Linked DNA regions of Homo sapiens. The protein of the gene in region 3 interacts with the protein of the main gene of each other region in a pairwise test. Each region holds a gene or a part of one and is shown on either strand. Other genes may lie near its edges.

Region 1 (9,348 bases), on a different chromosome or scaffold from region 3:
TGCATTTAGACAGAAAAATTTTACATTATCATTTGTCAGTTTTATTTTAATTACTAGTCTTTCAGTTAGAGCTCTAGGAAACACACTGTTATTCCAATTTAGAAGAAAGTCATTATGAGTTCTTACAGAAGAATCAGAAGGCAGATTGGAGGCACCTGGGTTTATTGAAATAGCCACATCATTCTTATAAGTATACTTAAAACATTTGCCTCAGTTTAACTAAACATGAAAGATATACGCCTGAATCCTTTGCGATCGACAGGTTCTCATAAAAAAAAGCCATTGACCTTCTGTATAGCTTTTTTTTTTGAACCCACAGCTTCAATCATCACCAGAAAGTTCTTTAAAACACTACAATAGCTTTGTTTCTTTTCTGCTTTAATTAGCCTTCATGACGTCTGTTCTGTGAGTTTCCTTTTCTCTTTCTTTTTTTCTTCTATGGTTCCTAAAGATTCAAATGTCTGAGAAAAAGAACTTTGTAATACTAACAAGAGTCACTACAACTTCTTTAGAAGAAGGTGAGTGGATGTAAAGTTAATGATCGAAGCAGACACAAACCTCGCTAGCCACAGAATCTTGCCGAAGTAATACAGAGACATAGCTCATCATGACGTTTCCAGTTATTTCTAGCTGATTAGGGTCATTATGTTGGAGGGCTGATTTATGTTGTCATTCCCTCTCACCAGTCCTGCATCAATAGATCTTAATGAATTGGTAAATAAGGGTGAAGATTACACTTGACAACACAGAAACATTTCTCATTCATACCAGACAAGATTTATGTAACCAATTAGGACATAACAGGAGAAATTGGTCAGAAGAAAAATAATCTTTCCAGAAGAAAATTACCCAAGTCCAAACCTCTACAAAAACAGATAACCACTGGAGTTTAATATCAGCTCAATCATGAGTATAACGCCTTGTTGTTCCTTTTAAAGGAATATACCCTCACAAAAATCTGAATGCACAGAAAGTTTTTGAAAAATGTATTGCAATGTCTACTTTCTACAACATTTTAAGATGCAATAAAGTACTTTTCACAAAGTAGAAACATCTTGGGGCATAGCACTTTACTGTATATCAGTTCGTGTATTTCTTTCATAGTATCATTTCCAAGTGTAAGAATGCTATAAGAAAATACCAAAAATGCATGCATTTGTCAGTTTCTAAAGAATGATCATTACCAAAAAAGGTTTCATAGTTCGTATATTTAATAGAAGTAATTATTTGCTTTTCATTTTTACAGTTCCAGTGTCAGTTGTTGCCCCTTTGTCATTAAAATAAAGATGAAAGCACTGATCATCAATAGGAAACCACAGCTTTAAAAACCCAAAGGGCTGGTGTGAACAGAGGTGGAAAATTAAAGCAAAGTGATATTGAAACAGCCCAATTCAACTTGCTTTAAGCATATGCAAATGAGATTCCACTGCTTAACTGCATCATTTATGTCGATAATATCAGCATCATCATTACAGGACTTGCAATTAAATTACATCATAATTAGCATTTCAAAGTGATTGGTTAAACTTTAAAACAAATACCCAATTCTGCTAATGAACAGTGCTAATTGACTTGTACATACTAAATAAAAGAGCTAGGTAAATATATGTTCTAGAAACAATTTTTAAAATTCATTGTTTTAGAGGAAACAAAAGGCAAAAATTAAAAACAGAAAATTGCCAGGGGGATTTGTATGCTGAAATTTAAAACATGTAGCATTTAATTTTATTGCACTAAAGAACCTATTAGATTCTAGACTCTAGAGAACAATGTAAATTATCTGCTTTCAGAATGGAGTTGGGCCAATTCTCTCTATCAACTAATCACAAACCTCATTATGCATAGGAGTATTAAATTATGAAGAAGCAGCATTCCACATTCCAGCACAAATCCCTATGAAATGTTAATAATATGCCCACAATAGCAGAATACCATGCCTTACTTGCCTTCATGAATAATAAAGTAAACAAATTATCTATCCACCTTTTACAAAGATTATTAGTATTTCAATGCATATAATTTTAGTGATCTTTAAAATAAAACGTGAGCATATTCTGTGAAATTTTACATGGGTTTAAAAAAAAAAGTCAAACAAGTTGTTTTCTAATAGAGCACCATATTTCTAAACAGATACCTGTAACCCTTCAATACCGTAATCTCTGTTAGGTATAGGACTCTGCTTTCCGTGAAAACCAACAGGCTAATCATTAAACCTCTCCACATATTCTCAAGTATACTTTGTTTCCAAACTTGTACAGCAGAAGGGCTGACTGTAAAGACAAATAAATATGCCTTTAAAAGGGCATTATGAATCAACTATAGATAATCAGATTTAAAGTCAGAACAGTTCAAAGATAAGGAACAATCGAAAATAAGAATGAAAGTTTTGTATTACACACACTATTGACGGTGAAAGTGATTCAAGATCTATTCTAAGCACACATTAAATAGAGTGCTTTTTTTTTTTTTTTTTTTGGTCGCGGAGGCTAGTAAACAAAAACCTGTCACTTAGGCTACAGTAAAGTGAAAATACATGGATGAAATTTAGGCGTTATTACCTGAAGGTGAAGAATGTCAAACTGGTCAGAGGAAAAAGCTGTTGGTGTTGCAGTAAGAACTTGCTCATGTCACTGGGAAAAGTGCAGCTATCTGTGTCATCCTCCGACTGTGTTTATACTGGCTTGCATCATAAACAAGCTCATCTTCCCTCATAGCTTGTTCATGCATACTTAAATCACCTTGCCCATTAAAAATGTCTCTCTTGACAATTATTCTATCATTTTCAGTTGTCATCAGGCAATTACTGTAGCCCTATGATGGGCCCAATAGGATCCCAGGTTCTGAGACGCTTTTTTGAAGCAGACAGAATGAAAAGTGCAGAAATGGTAATTTATAGCCCAGCCAAGCTACCTTTTTAACTGACACGAGTATTAAACTATCACACCTATTTGAAGAAATATAATGCAGTTTCTAAAAATTACTCATCAATTCACAATGTGTATTCCTGGAAATATATATATTTCTTCACAATCAGTGATTTGAAAAAGACCCACCAACCAATTTTTAATAAAATCATGAACATGCATATAAAACTACAAAGATCATCTGAGCCCTGACTCCTTTCATGTTTGTACAAGCTTAGCAAAAAGAGTTTCCCCTTTAGCACAAAATAAACATCTGCTCTACACAGCACGGCACAGAGAGGCACCCAAACGTGTGGTCAAACTCCCTTTTCAAAAACTTGCGCCCTGACACATACTGGGGCATTTACTAAAAGCAAGATGACATGGTTATTATCAAACCATGAAAGCAGGAACCCTGTCTTTATTCTTCTCAAGATCTTGCAGATTTTTTTTTAATACAAAAGAGGCCTTCTTTATTTGCTGTCTTTACTAGTGATAGCTTAAATCTACATTACGCTACTGACAGATCAAAAACAGTTCCTGTGTCTGGTCTCCCGGCTTTTCCCTCGCAAACAGATACAATGCTCTAGTTCATTTCAATGAGCTACAGTCTCAGAAAAAAAAAAAAGTAAAGCAATTGCCAAATCTACCAGTAAAGCAATCGTAAAATCCCACCCCTCTCTAAACTCTTACAGATATTCTCTTAGCAAAAAGTAACGTACCTTCTCTGGAAATGTTAGAGCAAACTTCCCGGTTTCAACTTCATAGGAGTTTGTTAAAGAGATGAAAAATTAGGAAGATTCAAAAAAGCCAGCACAGAAAACAGTATAAAAAGAAGGGAAAACTCAGAAGCTAGCTCACTGTCAAAGCCACCATCAGACAACTATTTACAGCAGTATTTACACTACTGTGAGTACACCTCTGCCCGATCACGTCCCAGACTGATGGCATTTTGTGCTGGTAATTAAAACAAATCAAGCAGCTCTGTGATTGTTTTGGCGTCCGTGGACAATCGTACACAAAATCAGCATTTAATCACTAGGGTATGTCTTTGGTGTGCAACGTGAGGGGTGACAAAGGTTCAAGACTGAGCCAGCATGCTTACCATAATCTTTCTAAAGTAAGTGCTTCATTTTTGTGTGTGTGTATGTGTGTGTGTGCATGTGTGTGAGTGTGTGAGTGTGTGTGTGAGAGAGAGAAAGACAGAGAGAGAGAGACAAAAGCACCAGTTTGAGTCTCTCAAGTCCTCGGTTAGCTTTCATGTCTGTGATAAATACACTTCTTGCTTCCCTTATTAGGACAAGCTTACCATTATACACTGCACTTTTGGTAAAGCTCCAGTGCTCTGCAATTTACAGCCAAAGGAAGTAGTTTACAAAAATAAGCAAACCCAAGACAAGCATTTCACAGCCACAACATCAGATAAGCCAGAAAGAAATAATCTTCAATGCACATCAAAACCACTTCACAATGACAATTTGTCCAAGCAGATGTTAATCAAGCTTCAGCCTTTGAACACTAGATACCATCAATTACTAACCTTAATTGAAATCACAGTTCTCCAGCTTCTCTGCCAGCATATTCAGAGGATGATGTATTAAGATATTTACAGTAAAGTAAACAATGCATAGTTGCAATGAAATGGAAAATTTTCAGCTAATGGTGTTTGTCAATCCTTTGTCAATTTTTCTGCCTGCCACAGATGTTTTCTTAGCTGTTTCACAAAAACAGGAATCAACTAGCAGAGAAGAAAGACTTTCTCTCCCCCAGGAAAAGAGTACAAAGCCAAGTCTGTACACAGCAGATGCAAAAGAAAGTCCATCTGCTACCAGCTCACAACACCACATGGAGTTTTAAGATTTTATACTGTAGGTAGCCTAGCAGGGTTTGTGTGGACCCCATAAGCATGAAAGGAAGAGAAATGGTAGCCTCAAACTGTTAAGGTAAAAACTACAGCTACAGAGACAGAATGAACAACTTACTGAAGCTGGTAAATCAAAGGTTTATTTGCAATAATTTTCCTCCTATTGCAAGAACTGACTAGTTTTTTAGGAGTTACACCCAAGACAGGAACGACACTGTCTTAGTTTTATGGCCTTTAACTCTGGGCAAGACAACTTGAACTCACAGGTCTCAGCTGAACACCATCGTGAGTGGACAAGCTTTAACAGCACCCCACCTACAACTTAATGTGAGACAAAACAACAGTTACTGAACAAAGCACTTCGAAGAGATCTTTAACCGGCCACCACTCCTGCCACTGACTTATCTTGTTTTAGTTTCTTCAGATGAGTAACATCTGCCACTACTTTTGTTGCACATTTAAATACTAAACAGAAGAGGGAAAGATGTATAAAGAAGTACTTAAAATAACTGCTTCTAATAGCCTTTAATACAGACATTTTGGGTAAGTAATTACAGCAAATTTCACATTTCACCTTCAACCCCTGAGGCTGCACTATTTCTCCACCTCCCCTGAAAGGAACTGAAAGCACTTATTCTTTAGCTCTGTGATACAAAACCGTTTAATATTCTGTTAGCAATTTTTTTCATTTTATAGTTAAATAATTCACTCATTAAAAGTATGTTTATATTGGTTTTTTTTTAAACCAAAATTTAAACACAGGAAACTCATGCAATAGGCAAGTACCTGTAAACATTTATTTTTAACATTTTTTTATCAGATTGTGAACAAAGCAAATGAAATTATATGAGCAATAGTAACTTATATTTTAAGGGAATTAAACAACTGCGAATATTCAAGTATCAGGAATATATTTTTTAAGTCTGCTTTGTTCATTTAAAAATTTTTTCTCCCAACTCTTCACAGTTTACAGGGCTTCCACATTTCAAAGAAACTGTGAATAATGTATACAATGACACAAATGACTTTATGTACTCCAGAGGAAATAAAGGATAGTTTCCATTATCACATCAGTCAAATAACATTTTCACACAAATCTGTTTACATTCACTAAAATGATAACATAATGCTCTTCAGCAATAGTGCCTTATCAACCTAGAAAGCAGTGTAGTAGCAATTAACATAAAATTTAAAAGCTTACACTCATTTTTACCAACAAAAGTTAAAAAAATTGATACCTCTGACATTCAAAAATATTGTTATAAATATGTAAATTCATTTTTTTAAGTAAAATATTTGCATCTCCTTTCCTCCTCCAGGCTTTTGAACTTCTGAGGTCAACAAGGACAAACAATACCACTAGTGTCTCTTTGCAAAAAGCTGGGTTTGCTGTCTGCAAGCAATGGTATCATTTCCATAGCAACCCCCTAACTATTAATTTTCAATTAAAGCAGACACAAAGCGGACAGCCTCAGGCTGGCAGACAGTGTCAAGAGCCCATCTCTGTAGGCAACAGTTTCACACAGCTATCAAGCCATAGGTGCCTCCCGCACAAAGCTGCATCGGGGTACGTCAAGTTTGGCTGGTTACAATGACATTAACCTTCAGTTCAGGCCTAAATAATTTATAGCAAGCTTCACTAAGCACATATAAAGGTGACAAAAACTAGGAAAAGAAATAATTAACTAATGCAAATACCTCCCAATAAACACAAACAATCTCACACACACACAAATGTATTAGGAAGAAGTGTATAACCATTTTGTCAAGTCATTTGTTCCTGAAGAGTCCCACATTCTTTACTATCAGCACACTACTCTTCGATATCACCTGGAAATAACTCCAGGTTATTAAAGAAAATGTTACACTCTGCATATTAGTTTTCACAATCAAATTTTGCTTAACATAAAAGACTATGACTACATTACATTACATAGTAAAACTCCTTTCATTTTATAACCCTATGGCAGGTACGTGATCAGGAAGATGCCACTAAGTAAAAAAATTTTAACTTATATCTTCCAAAATAATCATAGTAATTTTAAAAATAGATTGCTAACCAGACTGTGGTGTTTTCTTTCTATGCCCTTATTATGATTTCTTCCAATAGCAAATCTTTAAAAATATTTTTTAATTTCTTAAACATGAGATGACCTATTAGCAATTCCACTGAACTATAACACTGGTAATTTTGTACTATGACACCTGAGTTTGTTCAAAACAAGCACATTTCAAGGCATAACATAGCAAACATTTTGCTGTATTAAAATCTATTTCAAAAACACATTGAATACCTACTATGTGCCATGCACTGGCTCCATGAAAACTAATCTTGTTTTCCCCCAAAATAGTTATGGAAAAGAATGTATGAAAGGTCAAATTTCCCCCACACTGGATATGATCAGTTGTAAATCCCCTGGACAACTGTCAGCTTTGAGAAGACTTGGTTCTTCTCTCTAGTGCAGAGGGATCTATAAGCAAGACACATCGAATGAGCTAGGACACTGATTAAATACCAATCTTGAAAGCAGCAGAACAAACTAACAGGAAAAAATGCCCAGTGCTATCAAAACTGTAACATTGTAACAATAAAATCTAAACTAAATCGGTGGCATTTACTAAATTGCAGCCACCATTTCAAACAGATAAAAGATGAAATACATATTTTAACAAAACAGAAACATGGAAGAACTGCCTGCTTTGTTTTACAGCAGTACTGTGAAATTCCTTTATTCAAAAATGGTCAAGTCTCCATATTTTGAGCGTTATGCTTACCTTCTATTTAATCTCACATAAAAATGAATATAAACTACAGGGGAATTCTGTGCTTTTTCAAATGTGTGTCTGATTTGAGTTACAGGTGTATTTGTTGTCAGAAACTTGAGTGGGAAAAATTTCATTTCTATTTATTTTAATCAGCATTTTAATACATAACACAGGCTTGGGGCTAATCCCAATTTCCTTTCTATTAGTCTAAGCACATTCACATACCATTACAGTAATCCAAAATCGAAAGCCAGATAAAGAATATGGTATACCTTTGGCGATGTGAGGTTTCAAAACACAGTGTTCTTCTGTGGCCACCACATAAGTTTGGCTCCAGAGTTGCACTGAATCCCAATCTTAATACCTTACTCATGTGTCTTTTTTCCCATTGCCATTTATGTATGCATTTTATCTTCCTGTCCCAAACACTAAGTTCGCTGAGAGTGCAATGTTTTATGTTAGATACTCTATCTACTAGCATAACCTACATATAAAGTCTTGAAATATTTGTTGCCTAAATGAATAAATAAATCTAATACTTAATAGATGAAAGTGACAAGTCTTTTCTTTTTTTTTTTGGCTACTGCCACCTTCATCTACTATTTTCTACTGCCTACACTCCAACAGTATTATTGAGAGGGGTATTTCAGAGAAAGAATAGTTGAGAGATGCAAGTTCGGAAACTACCTGTGTATAGCTATAACATATCCAAGACATCTTTTCCAAAGGCGGTGGTAATTTTTTCTCAAGGAAACACATACTGTTTATTGAAAGTCAACTCTCCTCATCTATACACAGTGATCAATCTCACATGCACTGCCATACTTTTTATGGTAGACAATAGAAGAAATAAGTTTTGTTACATAAAACAAAAAGGAAAATATTTATTGAGCATCTACTACATCCAGGCATATTATGAATGTTTACATGCATCATATCTAATCCTTCCCTCCAGCCTGAAAAGCAGATAATATTACCTTTTTTACAGATGAAGACAGTGGGACTCCCATATTTTAAGTTCCTCAGGGTCAAACAATATCTATGTCTTTTTTGACTCAAATGCCTGTGTTCTTTCTGTTCTGCCACAATGTTTCCCTAATAAACTTTATTTACAGAATATCTTCTACGTACAGAGTACTCTGTTGGGTGTCATGGGAAAGTAGGAGAAGAATTCATAGTAAAATCCGATCTAGTCTCTGCCCTGAAAACTCTCAATCAAGTACTACAGATATGTATCTAACCCTGCCTAGAATATAGAGTATGAGGAATATGTGAAGAGAGTACAACGCCATTTAGTGGTGTGTGTTCTGAACTAGGAAAGATAATAGCTGAGAGAACAAAGAAGTCTATATGGCGAAGATCCCAGTATTGGAACTGCCCCCCAAATAACAGGCAGGATTTTTTTAAGAGGAAATATATTTGACAGTGCTCCAGAAAAAGTGAAGCAAAACTAAAGACATAATGATGAGTTCTATCCCAAGGCAGGCATGTGGTTCAGATAGATTGGAGCTTAGTCAGTCAGTGAGTAATGGAATACACTAGGGTGAGTTAGGTCTGAAACTGGAGGTGTCAGAAGGAGAAGCCCAAATTGTATTCCATGGGCAACAGGGAGTATCAAGATGGTTATCAAATCTGGAGAATTATAAGATTACAGATGTTTTAGGAAAGTTAATTTAGACCAGTTTATATAATAAAATGTATGAAGAGATAGGAATGAGAAAAGCCAAAATCAATTGGAAAACAATCAAACAATAATTCTATGATGCAAGTACTTTCTTTCCCATTTTATAGAAGGAGAAACTGAGGCAGAGAAAA
Region 2 (4,931 bases), on a different chromosome or scaffold from region 3:
CTCCCAGGTTCAGGTGATTCTCCTGCCTCAGTCTCCCAAGTAGCTAGGACTACAGGCATGGATCACCACACTCAGCTAATTTTTTTTTTTTCTTTGTATTTTTAGTACAGACAGGGTTTTGCCATGTTGGGCAGGCTGGTCTTGAACTTCTGACCTCAGGTCATCCATCCACCTCAGCCTCCCAAAGTGTTGGGATTACAGACACGAGCCACCACACCTGGCCGGGAGGAGACAGGGTTTAGACTCAGGGTGGGAGGAGGGGAGCCCCTGCTCCTCATCTGTGGCCTCTGTGTCTTCCTAGGATCACCATTAACAAGGACACCAAGGTACCCAATGCCTGTTTATTCACCATCAACAAAGAAGACCACACACTGGGAAACATCATTAAATCGTAAGTTTCCCGTCACAGGCTCTCAGGGGCTATGTTTAATGGGCCCCTCTGGGCAAAGCACAAGTTCCAAGTCTTCCTCAGTCTCTCTGAGCTACAGGAAGTCCTTCTGGGGGCTTGCTCTGGGCATTTTATAATCTTGGTACCTTTTTATCAAAATGACACCGACCTCCATGTCTTCACATAAGCCACACTTCTGTAGTGGCTTATTCTGTAGATGAACACGTGCATTTACATTCACTGTTTGTTTGTTTGTTTGTTTTTGAGATGGAATTTTCTCTCTTTGTTGCCCAGGCTGGAGTGCAATGGCACGATCTTGCTCACTGCAACCTCCGCCTCCCGGGTTCAAGTGATTCTCCTGCTTCAGCCTTCCTAGTAGCTGGGACTACAGGCCCACGCCACGATGCCCGGCTAATTTTTGTGTTTTTAGTAGAGACGGGGATTCACTGTGTTGGCCAGGCTGGTCTCGAACTCCTGACCTCAGGTGATCCACCTGCTGGCTTCCCAAAGTGCTGGGATTAGAGACGTGAGCTACTGCGCCCGGCCTTACATTCACCATTAAGTGCACATTCTGTAAATGAACGAGCAGCAGATTCCAGCACAGTAGGCCTGTTTGTTATTCATGCTGAGGGACATTGAAAAGCAGTCAAGATTAGCTCCCCTCATGCCACCCGTTTGTGACCTCAGTGCCACCTGGGCCTCTAAGATGTATGTGGCAGAGACTAGAACTTCTATTTAACAAGAGAAAGAAGTAGGAGTTCTGTGGCTATCCAGTGCCCCTAATGGGCACCCTGCATTGGTTGGTGGGTGTTTGTTTATACCAGTGAGGTCCTAGCCAGGTGGTTGGTCAGGGATGTGTCTGCCATTCTGGCCCAGGGACTTGCCATTTTACTGTAGACTTGGCTCTTCCCTCTGGTGCCACCAGCGAAGCCAGGCTTTTCCCCGTCTGTGAGTGGGGTCTGCCCAGTCTCCTGGTGTGGTCAGGCACGGGGATGGAGGAATCCTGCCCGGAGCCCAGCCAGTGGGGCACCCAAGCTCTCCTGGGGCCCTGCTGCTCCCCTGCTCTTGAGCTCAGTGTTGCCACCTATGCACGGGTCCCCCTTGTGGTGCTCACGCCACTCTGAGCCACTCTAGAGGAGACCCCTGCATGCCCAGGGCACAGTACGCGATGCAGCCCCATGGCACAAGGCCCAGTGTGCGTGGCCAGCCGCTGGCGGCTGTGCTGCTCGGAGGGCAGAGTTCCATTTGCATTCCACTCACTGCCGGGAGCTGGCCCTCCTCTCCTGCTGCCTTTATTTGCTGCGTGGAGGCTCTTTGTGGGCTTTTTGGGTCTGAGTCACTGAACACTGGCTGGACATTCACTGCCTGGGAGATCTCTTTGCCAGCACTGCGGTGCCCGGTGGGAAGAGGTTGCTGGAATCTCTTTCCAGCTCGGGTCCTTCAACCTCATGGATGCAGAGTGTGTGTGTGTGGCGGGGATAGGGTGTCCCCACATGAGGTATCTTCCTAAAAGTGTTACTTTCCTTGAAGACTTTTTGGGAAAAAAGTTGGGGGGGATTTTTGGCTAGAAAGTCTGTTCTTCTGCTCTGAGCTGGCTGCTACCCAGCTTGGGCATGAGGCTAGACCCTCACACTGTCTGTCCCTGGACCTCAGACAACTCCTAAAAGACCCGCAAGTGCTATTTGCTGGCTACAAAGTCCCCCACCCCTTGGAGCACAAGATCATCATCCGAGTGCAGACCACGCCGGACTACAGCCCCCAGGAAGCCTTTACCAACGCCATCACCGACCTCATCAGTGAGCTGTCCCTGCTGGAGGAGCGCTTCCGGGTGAGGGCGGGGCCTGGAGGGGCAGACGGGGTGGGCTGGACACTGGCCCGTGTGCCCAGGCCTGGGACAGCCCTGGCCTGTTTCTTCGGAGGTCCTCAGGGAGAGGCGGCGGTGATGGAAGAACAGGGACTTCCACCACAGGCTCCAGGACATGTGGACTGAGGGGCTGTGGAGTCTGGGCCTGTGGCTCCCGTCTGCCCCATGGGACTTCTGTAGTGCTGCAGGGTCCCTCGGGTGCTGTGGGCCAGATCCGGGCGGGGACCTACTGTCCTTTGGGGGTGCTCTTCTACGTCCCTTGTCGGTGATTGGCAAGGCCTGGTCCTTCCAGGCCTCTGGGAGGCAGCTCACCCCAGGGTGGCCCACACCTGTTCCTAGCAGGGCGCCTGGGAATCTAGAACAGTTTAGAGGGGAAAGAGCCACAGCAAAGAAAAGCCGAGGCAGGGTGATCACGAGGTCAGGAGTTCAAGACCAGCCTGGCAAACATGGTGAAGCCCTGTTTCTACTAAAAATACAAAAATTAGCTAGGCATGGTGGCATGTGCTGTAGTCCCAGCTACTCGGGAGGCTGAGGCAGGAGAATCGCTTGAACCCGGGAGGCGGAGGTTGCAGTGAGCCGAGATTGTGCCACTGCACTCCAGCCTAGGTAACAGAGCAGGACTCCATCTCAGTCAATCAATCAATCAATCAATCTCAGCGGTTGAACTACCCTTGACATGGTTCAGCTCTGTATCCACACCCAAATGTCATGTCAAATTGTAATTCCCAGTGTTGTGGGAGGGACCTGGTGGGAGGTGATTGGCTCATGGGGGCCGACTTCCCCCTTGCTGTTCTCGTGATATTGAGTGAGCGCTTGTGGGATCTGGTTGTTTAAAAGCGTGCAGCCCTCCCACTTCACTCTCTCTGTCTCTCCTGCTCCAACATGGCCAGACGTGCCTGCTTCCCCTTCGCCTTCTGCCGTGATTGTCAGTTTCCTGAGGCCTCCCCAGCCACGCTTCCTGTACAGCCTGCAGAACTGTGAGTCAATTAAACCTCTTTTCTTCATAAATTACCCAGTTTCTCATAGTTCTTTATAGCAGTGTGAAAACAGACTAATGGACCCTTCTGGTTGAAGGAATGCAGCCATTCTGCTTGTTTGACTATGTCCTTTCTATTCATCTCTATTTCCTGGGAGGTGTTTATCCAAGTGCAATAGGAGGTATTGGTGACCGCACAGTCCCCTCAGTGTTCTGCTAGTAAATAGTTGAAGGTTGATCATTGATCTTCTGCGTTTTCAGTCTGGCATGGAAAAGCCCCTGTGCAACTGGTAAAGATATCAATAAGCACCAGGAGGTATCTAAATCCACCAGGAGCCATAGGCATCACGTTGACATCCATTTACCAGTCTTCCCTGGCAAGATTCTTCTGAATTGTGCTGCCTTGGCCAAAAGAGGTATGGGAGGGGCTGGGCGCAGTGGCTTGTGCCTGTAATCCCAACATTTTGGGAAACCAATTCAGGTGGATCGTTAGAGGTCAGGGGTTCAAGACCATCCTGGCCAACATGGTGACATCCCATCTCTACTAAAAATACAATAAGTTAGCTGGGTTTGGTGTTGGGTGCCTGTAATCCCAGCTACTCGAGAGGCTGAGGCAGGATAATCGCTTGAACCTGGGAGGAGGAGGTGGCAGTGAGCTGAGATCGTGCCATTGCACTCCAGCGTGGGCAACAAGAGTGAAACGTCGTCTCAAAAAATAAAAAAAAGGTCCGGGCTTGATGGCTCACACCTGTAATCCCAGCACTTTGGGAGGCCAAGACGGGTGGATCACGAGGTCAGGAGTTCAAGACCAGCCTGGCCTAGATGGTGAAACCCTGTCTCTACTAAAACTACAAATATTAGCTGGGCATGGTGGCATGCACCTGTAATCTCAGCTACTCAGAAGTCTGATGCAGGAGAATTGCTAAAACCCAGGAGGGAGAGGTTGCAGTGAGCCGAGATTGCACCACTGCACTCTAGCCTGGGCGACAGAGCAAGACTCCGTCTCGAAAGAAAGAAAGAAAGAAAGGAAATTCCCCAGGGAAGTACCTCGGCTGATTTCATAAACAGGTACCGAAGGAAGCAGAGGCATGTGGAGGACTTCCCCACCTCATGCAGCTATTTGGGCCATGGCGTCTGAAATTTATTATTTCAGAGTCACCCCTTTGATGACCTTGGCAGTGAACTGCAGTCATCTGTTTAGGCCTTTCCATGGCCCACGTCAATGCCGTTATTTCTGTTTGTTGCACATTTGATTTCCTTGTTGTTGGCATTTAGAAGGCCCCCTGCTTCCCAGATCACACCACGGGCATGGACCACAGAGATTGCATCTTGTGAGTCTGTAGAAATGGTCAAGGCCTTGTCCTCTCTTAGGTCCAGAGCTCAGGTGAATGCAGATTTTCCCGGCCATCTGTGCTGAAGTCCCTGTGGGGAGGCTCCTGGCTGGTTTCCTGTAGGTAGACAGCTACACGTCCTGCCCTTCATTGGCTTCTTTTCATGAAGCTCCTGCCATCTACAAAACATGTCTCCCTTCTTGAATCACATCTCTGTTATTGAAACTCTAGAAGTCAACCGGGCATGGTGGCTATGCCTATAATCCCAGCATTTTGGGATGCCAAGGCGGGTGGATCACCTGAGGTCAGGAGTTCAAGACCAGCCTGACCAACATGGCGAAACCCCGTCTCTAATACAAATACAAAAATTAG
Region 3 (8,813 bases):
GAGCGGCGGAGCGAGAGCCCGTGTCTGCGGGACAGCCCCGACCGGCGGAGCGGCAGCCCGGACGTCAAGGGGCCTCCCCCAGTGAAGGTGGCCCGGCTGGAGCAGAACGGCAGCCCCATGGGAGCCCGCGGGAGGCCCAACGGCGCCGTGGCCAAGGCCGTGGGAGGTAACAGCCCGGAGCAGGGAGGCGCGCAGCCCGCGGCCCAGTGATAATGGCCCGGGTGTCAGGGTTCAGGTTGATTAGGCGCTGTCGCGGTGTAGGATTACAGGAAGTGAATTCCAGGTTGCCAAATAATGCCCCCGTCGCCTCTCATCTGCAACTGGTAGCTTCATCTCCAGTTAAAACAAGAAAGTGGTTTTACCCAGAGGGTGGCATTTTTTGGGCATTTTGCCACTGTGTGCTGAGGTGTTGGCAGGTTTATGTCACAGCCAGCTAACTGTTTCTAGATTTTCCTAGAGAGCTTTTTAGTGATTTAACTCTTTTGCCTTGCCTCGGAGTGTCTGTTGTAGGGATGAAGTTCACGTGCGTTCGCTTTTAGGGAATAAAATAGTCATTAATGCTCAGGCGAGTACAGGAACAAGGAGAGTTGATGTTACTTTGTAGTGAGGACAGTGCTTCAAGACAGATGAATGACAACTGGGAATATTTCCTGCCACGTGAAATGTGGGAAATAAAGAATCACCATGAATCCATCAGGCCCTTAGAAGCTTAAATGCTGCTGTTGTCTATAAAGTTTAGTCATATGCATTCGTAACTTTATTATGAATTATAGGAGAACAGATAAAAATAGCAAAGTAGCCTTATCAACTAGATGTAGTTTCCCCTCCAAAGAATTTATTAATAATTTTATTTAAAGAAAATCTTTTGTAGTTTTTACTACTTAAGCAACTACTTTCTTTTAAAGTGGTCAGGAAAAGCAATCATACAAAATAAAGATATGGGAGAAATTTAAACATTGAAATATTTTGGAGTTTGTATGCCATTTGCTTAGTTGTCTTTTACATGTAAAATCCACAATTCCACATGGCATGCAGGTTTTCTGTGTGTTTGGCATAAATCACTAGTTTAATTTTTTTTGCCTCTAACGTTTTTTCTCTAATAATTTCAACAGTAGCCCATTTAATATTCAATATATTAACTTGTCTTAAATGATATAAAACCTTGGCAAACCTTAATGATAAGCTCCCACCCCCTTGTTGTAAGTGTCTATTGTGTGTATTTCAAAATAGTTACTTACATCTAAAAATGTTCATTCCTCCTTAAAGAGTTGAACACATACGTTTTATAAAATCGTATTTTTTTCTTTTTACTTATTTTGCTATTTCTATTTCTTCATGGTAAATACTTAGGATGGTTTGTCTCAGTCTTTCATATTAATCGTCTCACTTGAGAAGTATTCATCCTTTCAATGTTGTGAGTTAAAAAGTTTGGTGATGGATTCTGGCTTGTTTATCTCCCCTTTTTGGGACTTGAAAATATACTTTATTGAAGCAAAAGAAAACAGTTCTGTGACCCACTTTTTAAAAGAGAGGTTTATTAATTTGTTGTCCTGATACTGGAGCAAATAATGTCAGACTTTTGGCATAATCAGTTAGTATATGCATATAAGAAATAAAAATTCATAGAGTATGATGGTACCAATTATGAGATATGCTAAGTGCTGAAAATGTTTGAAAAAGTTCTGAAACTCCTTGGAGACAGTGTGTTCCAAAGTGGCCTTTGTGGACAGAAAAGGCTTGGACTTAAAATTTTGGTATCTTTCTGAAGATCTAATAAAATTCACTAAATTGAAAGGAGCTGTAAACATTTTAGAATGTAATTGTTAACAACGTGCTTCCCTAAAACAAGTTTTTTCCCCTCCTCTATATCATGTTGAACTATGAAAGAAAGTGCCTTGTTCTGTTGACCAGGGATAACTTTAGTGTTAAATAGTGGTTGGTTTTCAAATTTTCTGAGACTATAGTTCACATTTGAGCCCTTATGTGTTTAATATAAACTAAAATTATTATCTTGGTGAAGAATAATAGATTTGTTTCAACCAGCTGCCTTAGACACTTTCTCTTGATTAACTTAATTTAGTAATAGCAGAGGTCTTATTAGCTGCTTCCCAAATTGAAAATAAAGATGACATTATTTTGTCTCAATACATATCGTTTATAATACACGATAGTAAACTGGTTAAAATTGTTTAGTGGAATTTAAATTTTTTTAAAAAAGACAGCATAATAGTGTGTAAAGAGATTAATTTAGACAACTTTAGAATATAACAACTTAGAAGATAAGATTTTGATAGTACAAAGGTTTCTAATTGAATGTTAACAAAATTATGAGTTTAAGTTTATATAATTTCCAAATGTATGTTAAGATGTTAATAGTTTCTTTGTAACTGTTAACCATGTATACAGTTTGGAGCAAAGCCAGGCCTTTTGAAAAATGCACATTCTAAATTTTAAAAAATGTTTAAAATACATTTCTAGTTAGTTTTTTTATAATTAAAGGATTTTTTTGAACATAGAGTAAATATAAAGTAGATTATATTTCTACCATTCTATGTTCTTTTGTTTAAATTTTCTTTATAAAGCAATATAATAAGCATAGATAACTACACAAGTATTTATAGCTCTGTATCATTTATTACCGTTTTCAGATATATTGCAGTCTTTTCAATGGTGTAATGATGGATACAATAAAATTTGTCTTAAAAGTGGAGCCAAAAATTTGGGAGTACATATTTGTTAATCTTTAGTGTTCCTCTTTCTTAAAAGCTGTTCTTTTAAAAATAAGGGAGATCAAGTTAATTGGTTGTCAAATCAAATAGCAATTTATCTTACTGTTTTTGATAAGCAGTGAGGTAAATATAGTTTAAATATACTTCTGAATGCATTGGTTGCAGTAATAAATTCTGCTGTTACTCTACTTATTTAGGTAGAGGGAATTTACTGTGTTTTTTGATGAGAACTAAGTATTCATAAAAGAAGGGGCATTACTTTAGTGTCTCAATTTAAATAGAAGAGAGGGTAGATACACTGTCACTGTCTTTAAGGTTGTGTTTTAACAGGGGACTTAAAAGTGGATTGTTTACTATGTGGTTAGCTTTAGAAGACTGTTAGAAACTAGATGTTTTGCTTTGTCTTTCCAACACTTTCTGGGATGTTTTTACTCTTATCTGAGCAGTGTGTTTTAAAGCATGTATGTAATAAAATGTAAGTGCTCAGATGTGTATGTCAGTCAGCTTTTACAGACGGTCCTTAGGAAAAAAAAAAGGCTAATATCTCTTTAAAAAACATATGAAGGCTAGGAGAGAGTTTAGAGCTAGCAAGAGCACCATGGTGTTGACAGCTTTATATCCCTGCTGGGTAACATTCACTTACTAGAATTGGCGTCCCCTCTCAGCTAGTAATTCACTCCATAAGGATTTTGAAAAAGGATGATTAATGGTGGGGAAATTTATATTTGTGAAATTGTTGATTAAAACTTACAGATCTATTTGAAGATTTAGGAAAAGAAGGGATTATTAAGGATGATGAAAATAAGAATCAGATGATCCTTTTTACCACTATTAGCATAAGTACCTAAAATGTTCTGCTGTATGGAATGCTTCAGCCATGCAACTTACAGCATAAAATGAAAGTGATGCCAATCAAGTTTCCAGAGGAAGCAAGGCATTCTGCTTTTCTCCTGGACTGCTGAAAGGTGCTGGCCAGTTGTGCTTTAATAGCAATAAATTATTGTGCTTCATTCATTGTTAACACAAGCATTTTCATTTTTTAATGTTTGGCTTAAAGAAGAACTTTCAGACAGCTTTATTTAAACTGAATGAACAGCGCTTGAATATACCAGATGGTGTATTTGCTGATAGGAGACATTAAACATCAGAAATCTTTTTGATATTTTTCATTTTCCTATGAATTTTTATGATTTTTTGGTGTTAAATGTTCTACATTTTAGGGAAAAATATTTAAACATTGAAAATATCTTTTAGAGAGATTTGCTTTTTTTATTAAAAAAACTTGCTTATTTCTGAAAAATAATTTATGTTTTATAAATAACAATTTAATTTTGTTGGCATACTGTCTGTTAAAGTTATCTTATAACTAGTCTACCTGAAGTAGACCTATTCGTGCTACCAGGCAGCCCTTTCAAGAACATAACTGTCTTGTTGCAAGGGGGAAAAAAATCATTATGCAGTACACACTGATGTATTCAAATAGGGAAGCAAATGTGATCAAGATTGTTAGTCAGGGCCTCATTTAAAGCTGAACATTGTCTACAACAACAGTTAGTTTAATTGTCTACATGTGGAACACTTCCTTTTAGATGAAAAGAAATGCAGTTCGGGTCAGGTGTAGTCACCATATCAGCAACAGTAGAGAGACATTTAACTTTTTGAAAGGAATGCAGATATGAAAGTATAGATAGGTATATATTGAGATTATAAAATACTTAGAAATATATTGTTAACATGGGCAAAATGGAGAAAACTCCATTCCCAAGGATGAATATCATAATATTTGTAGGAAGTACACATTACTTCAAAAGAGAAAAGATTGTATTTCTCCCTCCTCACTTTTTTTTTTTTTTTTTAAGGTTTTAAGATCTTTTAAATAGAATGAACTTAGGCTTTGGGGTCATCCAACAATCTAGCCTGTCCTCTGTAGTTTTGCTGAGGTAGAAAAATAACTCTTCTCTAAAGTGTTTTTAGTTCTTGGCCTGTTATTAAAATAAAGATATACTTGGTTAAAAAAATATATGCAGTGGAACATACACATTAAACAGAACATAGGGTATCCGCCCCTCAAAGTCCTGAGCATAATTTGATGTTTCAAGTAATTTTGGAAGCCTTATGTTCCATCAGAAGAAACCCACTGACCATTGTATACTCAAGATCATCTGTAGTGCAGTGTGTGTGTGTGTGTGTGTGTGTGTGTGTGTGTGTGTGTGTTGGAACTACATAGATGTCCCTTAAGGCATCTGTTTTTTAACCCCTGCAGAAAATAAGCAATATCATCCTTTCCCAGAGGGTTGTAACCAGCAAAGTCTGTACATATGAGATATCCTGTTTGAATTCTTCTTTTCTTTCTTGAATTTTGTTTTAACCAATCTATCTCTGTAGAGAAGGGAAAACAGACTAATCATCATTTATTAGATAGCTAAGAATATGAATTTGAGTCATTTTAAGTATACGGAAATCAGTTTTATTCCAGGAAAGACTACAGTAATTATTTGGTATATCTGACAAAGTAGTAAGCAGTGAAGTTTGATGGTTATAATTTAAAACCCCTATTTTTCTTTCTTTTTAAAAAGTATTTATTATAGAATCAGCATATGTGTATATATTTAAAAAGACATGTTAAATTTACAGGGCTAGATGAATTCCAAATAGTATTATTTTCTTGGGTTATACTTATCTTTTAAAGCTTTTTAGGTTTCTGTTGGAATAAAATTTCTCACCATTAAAATGTTTCTTATGACTAAGAACCCACATTAGGTGTGTAAAATATGTACATTGTTTTATTTCAGAAAGCCAAACTTTATCCTATATAGCATGTAAATTAATAAAGAATTCTTTATATTGTTTAATCAGTAGGCTTTTAAAAAACCTATATAACTAATATATGGTAACATAGTAATTTTTACTATCTTCCTTACATGAATACTGAGATACAATGGCATTTTGGAACATATTTAAAGATGGAGCATTTGACAAAAGTTGTATGTGTAACAGTTTGTCAGTGAAAAGTGACAAGTGGGAAATGACAAATGAAATGTTGGCATCATCACTCTTTATTTTGATAAAAATGTCTCAATTTGCAGTGATATAATACTGTTTCATATTATTTCATGAGTTGTGTGAGAATGCATAAGGGGAATTTAGATTTTGTGAACGGAAAATTAGCAGCCCAAAGTCTCTTTTCAGAAGCTTTGGCAGCAAGTTCCCCGTCTCCCCCACTCCCCAAGAATAAGAACAGCAGTGAAATGTTGGATCTAACCCATACATTTTAACTCATTATTTTTTGGAAAAAACAGAGAAATAACCTAAAATGGTTTCGAGTAGGAGACCTTTATGCTTAACTCAAAAAAATGAAGAAAAGAGTTTGCCTTTTAGTTTCTATTCTTTTCTTTGTAGCAATTTTTAAATGAATGATTTGCCTCTACTGACTTTGATTGTATGGTCTTTTTTCACTTCCAATCAACACTGCTCTCCAGCATTAATTTAGGGTGCCAGTAAGGAGAGCTGTGAATTCCTGTTATTTTAAAATGCAATAGAGGTTTTGAAAATGTCTGTGGTGAAAATGGATTTTTATATACAAAAGATTCATCATCCTACTACTTAAATGTAATGTGATAAATATTTCAAAGTCAAAGTAGATGCCCTGAGTGGAACTGAGGTATGACTAAAACAAAAACCAGTTGAGGACTTACAGAGTTTGAAAAAAGCACAGTTGTAGTCATTATAGTATGCTATTTTCCGTTGCTCTTTATTGTTAGCAATTAACCAAACATTATTTTTCTTCTTTTATGTAGAAACAAGCCCTGTAAGCATAACATGCTACAGTGTTTTTGTAAAAATGTTCCATGGTGGAGTTTTCAAAATTATGGAACTCTAGCTATATATATTTGTTTCAATTAACAGAATTATTTTGCTTTTTAGTAGCAAGTGATTTAAGAATTGTGGTAAAATCAGTATAATTAAGTGGCACTGAAAGGCTACATCAGAAATTGCATTCTACAACTTCTGTATCTTTGCTGCTCAATTAAAAAGTTTTACTTATTTCAGATTTTTAAAAAACTAGATAAAAAGACATAATATGGAACAAGTGTGCTTTAGATATATAATTATGACAATAGAGTTTATGGCATGCATTTTTTTTCCCCTTTTTAATTGATGTCCTTTAACTTAAACAAGTGGATGTTATGGTTATTAGTTTGACAAATGCCTAAAATGCAGATAAAAGCATGAATAGAAATTTTAAGAATTTGAAACTTGCAATAAAGTTATCAGCAAACTATGTCAGTTTTATAGTAAGCATATTCTTTATTAATGATTATGACACATAGGACAGGAAAACCTTCTGGGGAAATATATTTCAATTTTAGTTGCTCCTGGTACTGTTACTCACTAATAGTGTGTGGGCAGATTCAGTTCTGCTCTTACCTAGTAGCCGTATCATTGGAATGGAGTTCTATCGTAGTACAGTTGGTTATTAAACTGTAAAATAACAAAAAAGATCAAAAAATTAAGGGGAGGCACTGCAAGCTACTATTTATCAAAAGGGATCCATTTCAAACCAGGGTAACTGGTGCCCACTGATGGTTGCACAGTTACTGAAATGTGCACAGCAGCTCAGTGTCTTTCTTTTGTTTATTTGACTGAAGACTTACACAGATATTTATGTATATAATATATAAAATAAGAGACTCTAGTTAGAGCAAATGTTTTCCAAAGTGCTAAGATCTGACAGAGGTGATTTGCAGGGGTTTGTCGTAGAAACAGCGTGAATTTCATCACGTTAACCACATATATCTTTTTCTTTCTTTAAAAAATACTTTTTACTTGTTTTTGCATTTGGCTGGAAAGCAAGTGTATCAGTTCTTTCATAACTGATTGTGATTGATTTTTTTTTTAACACAAGAAAATATTTTCTTTGCAAAGAGAGCAAATTTGATTGGATGCCATGCCCAAGACTCCTGGGAAAGGACCAAAGGACCAAAGGCATAAAGTAAAAATAACTGTATTTTTAGATTTCCCAATTATGTCCTATATTAAAATTGAGTACTTTTATTGCATTTGTTTCAATTATTATTACATATAAGGAAAGGCAAAATTGATATATTTAATAGCTTACTGACGATGCATTCATATCAAAACACTTGAAATAGCAATAGCATTTTTGAAATATTATTTTTTGGGGGTTAACAGAACAAGAACTTTCTTTTGTCATAATCCAAAGATGCTAACAGAGCAGCATGATAAATGTCTCTTTAAGTGTCGTAGTAAAAGAAAATGACTTGTCTTCTGAGGCAGTGGAGAGTTTATGTTGTTTTGGACCCATTTCCCAAGCAGTGATCGAAAACAGATTACAATAACAATTATACAGTCAGAAGATGCAATATCCATTTCTGCTTTAATTGAGTGAAAGAATAATAAAAACATCATTAAGAAAAATGAGGTGGACCTGTCACACAATGTACAAATTTTTAGTCTTGGAGAAGATGCAGAAAAACTGAAGTGCTTTTCGCATACTTTGTTGTGTTTATTAGCTAAAATCTGTTTTAGGGAGAGACCATTTGGCTCTCATTCTTCCCTGGGAAGTTCAAAGAGGAGCCCATGGAAAGTGGTTGCCCAGGAGACATTACAAATGACCATTGACTTTGTCTTCATACACAGTTTGACCAGGAAAATCCCATTTTCTTAAATTCTACCTGAGGTGGAACTACTCTCTCCCCCTCCTTTTTTTTTGTCTCTGTAAATGGAAGTCAGAAGTAATGAATGTTCCTCTTGTTACAAAGCCCAGCCAAGTAAGGGTTAGATGGGGTTCCTAGGCCTGCTGTTCTTCCTCTTCCCAAAGTCCAAACTAGGCTGAAGGGGAGAGAGTTGAGGCTGAATAATGAGCACCCTCATTTCTTCTCAGCACACACCGGGGTAACCTGAGTTGCTCTGTGGGCACATCACCTGAGGTGTACTCACCTGACTGTCACCTGAAATGCAGAGGCTCTTGCTTCGACCTGCAATCCTCTGAATTATGAAATCGATGTCCTTAACATTGCTGAGACTCTGGCTCTCATTCCACAGAGCTATGCTTTCAGCAAC

The links. Proteins that work in one complex are often made in the same cells at the same time.
Region 1: the proteins of SATB2 (region 3) and FOXP2 come close enough for resonance energy transfer, tested with the Homo sapiens proteins (one study listed by BioGRID).
Region 2: the proteins of SATB2 (region 3) and POLR2J3 interact in binary tests that used the Homo sapiens proteins (3 or more experiments, as listed by UniProt).

What each region holds. Positions count from the first base shown.
Region 1 is NC_000007.14:114,409,638-114,418,985, reverse strand, and holds the start of FOXP2 (forkhead box protein P2), read right to left. Parts: upstream 4,172-9,348; 5' UTR 3,626-4,171; intron 1-3,625. UniProt on the Homo sapiens protein: Transcriptional repressor that may play a role in the specification and differentiation of lung epithelium. May also play a role in developing neural, gastrointestinal and cardiovascular tissues.
Region 2 is NC_000007.14:102,565,295-102,570,225, reverse strand, and holds the end of POLR2J3 (DNA-directed RNA polymerase II subunit RPB11-b2), read left to right. Parts: intron 1-301; coding exon 302-391; intron 392-2,041; coding exon 2,042-2,216; intron 2,217-3,142; coding exon 3,143-3,175; 3' UTR 3,176-3,260; downstream 3,261-4,931. UniProt on the Homo sapiens protein: DNA-dependent RNA polymerase catalyzes the transcription of DNA into RNA using the four ribonucleoside triphosphates as substrates. Component of RNA polymerase II which synthesizes mRNA precursors and many functional non-coding RNAs.
Region 3 is NC_000002.12:199,447,222-199,456,034, reverse strand, and holds part of SATB2 (DNA-binding protein SATB2), read left to right. Parts: coding exon 1-166; intron 167-8,813. UniProt on the Homo sapiens protein: Binds to DNA, at nuclear matrix- or scaffold-associated regions. Thought to recognize the sugar-phosphate structure of double-stranded DNA.